Regions from separate parts of the Homo sapiens genome. Here region 2 is linked to region 1. The links come from fine-mapping of genetic effects on plasma protein levels. A gene starts in region 1. The other region holds a variant in brackets. All regions are shown on one strand. Distances are between the middles of the regions. Region 1 holds the start of XXYLT1 (xyloside xylosyltransferase 1). Region 2 overlaps XXYLT1 (xyloside xylosyltransferase 1).

The links. PIP is the posterior inclusion probability: the model's chance that the variant is causal. Protein levels are from the aptamer-based SomaScan assay of Sun 2018.
Region 2: its variant is fine-mapped to the plasma level of the XXYLT1 protein (Sun 2018, PIP 0.95).

What each region holds. Positions count from the first base shown.
Region 1 is chr3:195,268,588-195,271,499 of GRCh38, reverse strand. XXYLT1 (xyloside xylosyltransferase 1) reads left to right here and starts at 341. Exons shown (of 4, transcript NM_152531.5): 1 at 341-945. The coding sequence starts at 442. RefSeq lists silencers at 191-720, 881-1,060 and an enhancer at 311-1,102.
Region 2 is chr3:195,065,588-195,068,499 of GRCh38, reverse strand. It overlaps XXYLT1 (xyloside xylosyltransferase 1), which reads left to right. Exons shown (of 4, transcript NM_152531.5): 4 at 1-216. Among named protein-coding and RNA genes, the nearest start is that of XXYLT1-AS1, 28 kb to the left of the region's middle. RefSeq lists an enhancer at 1-168. The variant C/T (reference allele first, on the strand shown) is at 197.

The DNA of each region.
Region 1 (2,912 bases):
AGGTGCAGAGATTAAAGTTTTACCTCTTGGTGCCTCCAGCTTCGCTTTTGGCTAACCTAAGTTCCTCTGTTCGGGCGCCTCCATTCCCTTCAACACTCAGCTTGGATATCCTCTGGGGCTCGCCGCGTAGGGCGCCATTTCTCAGCCGGGACAGCGGGCCAGCCCTCAGCACGCTGGAGTCCGGAATCCCCCCCTCCCAACGCCGGGCGCCGGATCCCACCCTAACCCCTCCTCTAATACCCTTGGAACCTAGGACCCAGCGGTTTCGGCACGCCCGGCCCCGCCCCTCCGCGCACCGGCGCCCGCGATTGGCTCCAGGCGGCGCGGCCCCGCCCCTTTCATGGCCGCCGCCTGGCGCCGGGGCTAAGTGGCCGCCGGCGTCCGGGTACCCGAGGGCTCTCCCGCGTTGCTGGCACCGCTGGCGCCGCGGTCTCGTAGCGCATGGGCCTCCTCCGAGGCGGGCTCCCATGCGCTCGGGCCATGGCGCGCCTGGGCGCTGTGCGCTCCCACTACTGCGCCCTGCTGCTGGCCGCGGCGCTGGCCGTCTGCGCCTTCTACTACCTCGGCTCAGGCCGGGAGACCTTCTCCAGCGCCACCAAGAGGCTGAAGGAGGCCCGCGCCGGGGCTCCCGCCGCGCCCTCGCCGCCCGCGCTGGAGCTAGCGCGGGGCTCCGTGGCGCCAGCCCCCGGCGCGAAGGCCAAGAGCTTGGAGGGCGGCGGTGCCGGGCCGGTGGACTACCACCTGCTGATGATGTTCACCAAGGCGGAGCACAATGCCGCGCTGCAGGCCAAGGCCCGCGTCGCGCTGCGCTCACTGCTGCGCCTCGCCAAGTTCGAGGCGCACGAGGTGCTTAACCTTCACTTCGTGAGCGAGGAGGCCAGCCGCGAGGTGGCCAAGGGCCTGCTGCGGGAGCTCCTGCCGCCCGCCGCTGGCTTCAAGTGCAAGGTGAGCGGGCCGCGGCTGGGGGCTCCCGGTGGGTGGCCCACCCCATCCTAGGCGAGGTCAGTTTGCGCTCCCGGAGGGGATCCGGGGAACTAGCGGGTAGGATCTTCCCTGAGCTGCCCGCTTGCAATGTAGTGTTCACAACCTGCGGGAGGGCTCGTTCGGGGGCGTGTCCGGGAGCCAGACGCCCTCAGCTGGTGCTGAGGAGTGGAGCTGCGTTTTTAATGACCGCCTCGTTTTCCTCTCCCCCAGTTAAGCGCAGCCCCCAGGAGAGTCCGCGCGCCCCCATTTTGCTAACGTTGCAGGGTTCAGCACTGCCTTCAGAGTCTGCACCTCTGTTTATGTTCCTCAGTTTTTGACTTCTGAGGATGGGACTGGTCACCAGTAGTCATCCTGAGCAACTGGAGAGGGCCTTGGTGAGGCCTCTGGAAGTGTTGAAGTTGCAGTGACACTTCTCATTGCTCTTAAGGTATTTCAGTAGGATCTGGTCAAACTCATTGTGAACCATCTTATCTCCTCTCTGTGTCCCTTTTTCCCCTTCCTCCAAGGGTCATGAACCCATTTAGAGAAGCCTGGAGTTCCTCCGAATGAGGAAGAGAAAGCTCAAGAGGAACAGATATGATCTGGGGAGAGCACAGCTGGCCGCCTTGTCCCAGGCTGGACCAGTCTGCCTCCATGACAGCTTCCATCTCTGTTTATCATCTGTCTTCACTGCCTGGCTCTCCTTGTCTGAGATGTGTTTCTGACATAGTGTGAATTGCCTAGGTCAAATTGCTTATTTGATTTTGACCTAATAGTTGTACAGAGGGGATCCGAGGCCAGATTTTAAGGAGTAGTAGGTAATATTAAAGGGTGGAGACTGATGTTGGTTGGGGAAGCATGCTGAGACAGGAGTTGTATTATGTGAGTGACTAGGGGAGCTGTTGCCAGGATCCTACAGGCTTCGGGAGTCTCTGATAGCTCCTTGTTGCCTACGGGGTGAAGTCCCAGTTTATTGGTAGGGCTGTTGTGTTGTGAGCCTGGTCCACTTCTCTGGCTTCACCTCTCCTCCTTTGTCTACATGCACCTCATACCTTAGCTATGTAGGGAGTGGGCCTTATACATGCTGTACTGTCTGCCCACAGTGTCCTCTTGGGCCCTTGGCCATTCTTTACTCAGCTTTCACCTCTCCTGAGAAAGTCCCTAGACCCTGGGACCTCTGAAGGTCCTCGCTGGAGGAGGAGCCTGGCAACCTGTCCCAGGTGATCCTAATGACCCTAATATTTGAGAAACTTTGCACTAGTTCACGGTAGAAAACTGAGGGCCCTTGGCCATAGGGTCAGTCTGGGCAGATCTTGGGATTTGACCAGGTCTCCAAACACCGCCTTGAAGATAGCATTGTCATCTCTTCTGGGCCTACTCTGCACCGTTGCCGGATCTCTGTCCCCTTGTCCCCAGCTCCCGCTGCAGCGCTAGCTGCACAGCCAGTGCTTTCCAGCCTACTTGCCTTTGCTTTTGTCATTCCCACTGTTGGGGTGCTCCTTCTCTCCATCTCCAAGTCTTGCCCATCTTCAGATACCATCCCCTCCTTGGAGCCAAGGAAGCGTCCCTTCTTTCCTTTTCTACTTCCCTGGTGCTGTGACTGTATCATGTCTTATCATCCATCCCTATGTACAATGCCTGGCACTCTTAGTTGGCACCAGAAATATTGGCCCAGGGGTAGATCCAGCCTCAGGGCCGAGCCCCTCCTGTCTTGGAGTAAGTGTTTCATGCTCGGACTACCCCACTTTACTGGGCCCAGTTCTGGCAGCCTCACTCAAGGCCTGGAGGCAGCTGCAAATGACCAGAGGGAACTGATACCTCCTCTGTTGAGGGGTGAGGGTTTAGTGTCTGGGGACTTCTAGCCAGATGTCAGTGATTGGATAAGGGGTTATCAGTCCTGGCATAAAATTGCTCCCGTTACTTCTTTTTTTTTTTTGTGAGATGGAGTT
Region 2 (2,912 bases), 200 kb after region 1:
TTTGTTTAAAAAATCCCCTTATCATACCACGTTAGACCGTAGACCTTAGCAGAAATTAAAGCGTCATTTCTTTTGATGGGGCCTCCTGTACGTAGGCTGCAGACGTGAAAGCCCCAGGGGTCCATTTGTATCAATTTTCATCTTGTTTTGTTTTGATTTCATTTACGTTTTTCTTTTTCCCATGAGTGAGGATAGC[C/T]AATAAATCATCTTTGAGAACATGGTGATTCATGTTGTTTGTTCTCTGATCACAGTTTCAGCTGCATGAAGGCTCTGAATCAAGTGTGTACTCAATGCCATTGGAATCCCCACCTCCCCTGATGAAGATGAGTGCTTACAGGAGATCCTAAGGACCAAGGAGAGGGCACATCTGAGAGGGTGTCAGAGAGGGTAGTATTGGCATGTTTGGTTCAAAGCAAGGAATCATTTCATTCTAGGTATTGGCAGGTCCACCTGCACTGGGGAGCAAAAGCATCCCCATTTCTTCTCATCCCTCTTACCCTAGACTGCCCAGTTACATCCTGCCCTGAAGAGGTGGAGCAGATATCTTTCCCAGCCCTCTGCTGTGACAGAATTGGTCTGTTCTCTCACCTACTTGATTTCCTATTTATAGGTAACAATTCTTGAATGCCTGCTGTGCACCAGCCATTGTATTGGGGGATTTATTACGCTATTGATAATGTTTATGAAAACTTCATGAAGGTCATTATGTCTAAAGTCGACTGTAAGAAAATGTGAGAGATGTGGACAGAGTCATATACTATATGTTTATCACATTTTTTATAGTAGAAGAAAATTGGAAGCAACTTAAAATGTGAAAAAGAGGGGCCAGGCGCGGTGGCTCACACATGTAATCCCAGCACTTTCAGAGGCTGAGGCCGGCAGATCTCTTGAGCCCAGGAGTTCAAGACCAGCCTGGGCAACATGGCAAGGCCCAGTGTCTACAACTATACAAAAATTAGCTGGGCATGGTGGTGCACGCCCAGCTATTCAGGAGGCTGAGCTGGGAGGATCACTCAAACCCAGGAGGCAGAGGCTGCAGTGAGCTGAGATCACGACACTACACTCCAGCCTGGGGGACCGGGCAAGACTCTGTCTGTCTTTAAAAAAAAAAAAAAAAAAAAAAAAAAAAGAATGGAATAGGTAGATGAATAATATGCTTCATCCATATAACAGAATACTTGAGGCATTATTCGAAGAATATGTAATGCCTCAGGAAATACTTAGAATGTGCTATTAAATAAAGAATGCAAAATGTAAGATCATATGTTTAATACGATCCTATTTTTAAAATTACATATATGTGTATGTATATCAGTGTACACACGTGTGTATAGATACATACCTACACACACACGTATGTATAAAAAGAGCATCTATTCTGCTGTATTTCAACTTCTAAAAACATAGGTGTTTCAAACACCACATTAAAAAAACAATTATTTCAACGGGAAAAAAGTGAGTTAAAGGCTAAAGAATTTTAGACTCACAATAATAAAGGTATTTTCCCTGCAATCCTTTCTATAATTAAAATGTGTCTATAGCTATGTGTGTATTTTGTTGTTGCAAGAAAAAAACAATAAGCTGGTTGGTCAAAATGGGCAAAGGCCAAACAACATCCCTCATTTACTTTTAAGTAAACCTCTCAGGAGCTTCCCCTCTGTCACCAGTGGCCTCGACCTTCCAACCCCCCAGTGCACAGCAGACTGTCACTGCACAGGCACCCCAGCCCACCCACAGATCACACCCCAGCCCGCTGACAGATCACACCCCAGCCCGCTGACAGGTCCCACCGCAGCCCACCAACAGATCCCACCCCGGCCCGCGGACAGATCACACCCCAGCCCGACAGATCACACTGCAGCCCACCAACAGATCACACCCTGGCCCATAGACAGATCACACCCCAGCCTGCTGACAGATCACCACATAGGCACCCCAGCCCGCCGACGGATCACCACACAGGCAGCCAGCCCACCGACAGATCACTCCACAGCCTGCCGACAGATCACACCCCGGCCCACCGACAGATGACTTCACAGGCACCCCAGCCCGCCCACAGATCACCGCACAGGCACCCCAGCCCGCCCACAGATCACACCCCAGCCCCCCGACAGATCACCGCACAGGCACCCCAGCCTGCCCACAGATCACACCCCAGCCCGCCGACAGATCACACCCCAGCCTGCGGACAGATCACTGCACAGGCACCCCAGCCCGCCCACAGATCACACCCCGGCCCGCCGACAGATCACTGCACAGGCACCCCAGCCCGCCCACAGATCACACCCCAGCCCACTGACAGATCACACCCCAGCCCGTCAACAGATCACACCCAGCCCACCAACAGATCACTGCACAGGCACCCCAGCCCGCTGACAGATCACACCCCAGACCGCTGACAGGTCACACCACAGACCGCCAACAGATCACACCCCGGCCCACCAACAGATCACTGCACAGGCACCCCAAACTGCCCACAGATCACACCTCAGCCCACCGACAGATCACTGCACAGGCACCCCAGCCCGCCGACAGATCACACCCGAGCCCGACAGATCACACCCCAGCCTGCCGACAGATCACTGCAGAGTCACCCCAGCCCGCCCACAGATCACACCTCAGCCCCCCGACAGATCACTGCACAGGCACCCCAGCCCGCTGACAGATCACACCCCAGACCGCCGACAGATCACACCCCAGACCGCCGACAGATCACACCCCAGACCGCCGACAGCTCACACCCCAGCCCGCAAACAGATCACCGCACAGGCACCCCAGCCCGCTGAGAGATCACACCCCAGGCCGCTGACAGATCACAGAGCGCCGACAGATCACACCCCGGCCCGCCAACAGATCACACCCCGGCCCGCCAACAGATCACACCCTGGCCCGCCGACAGATCACCGCACAGG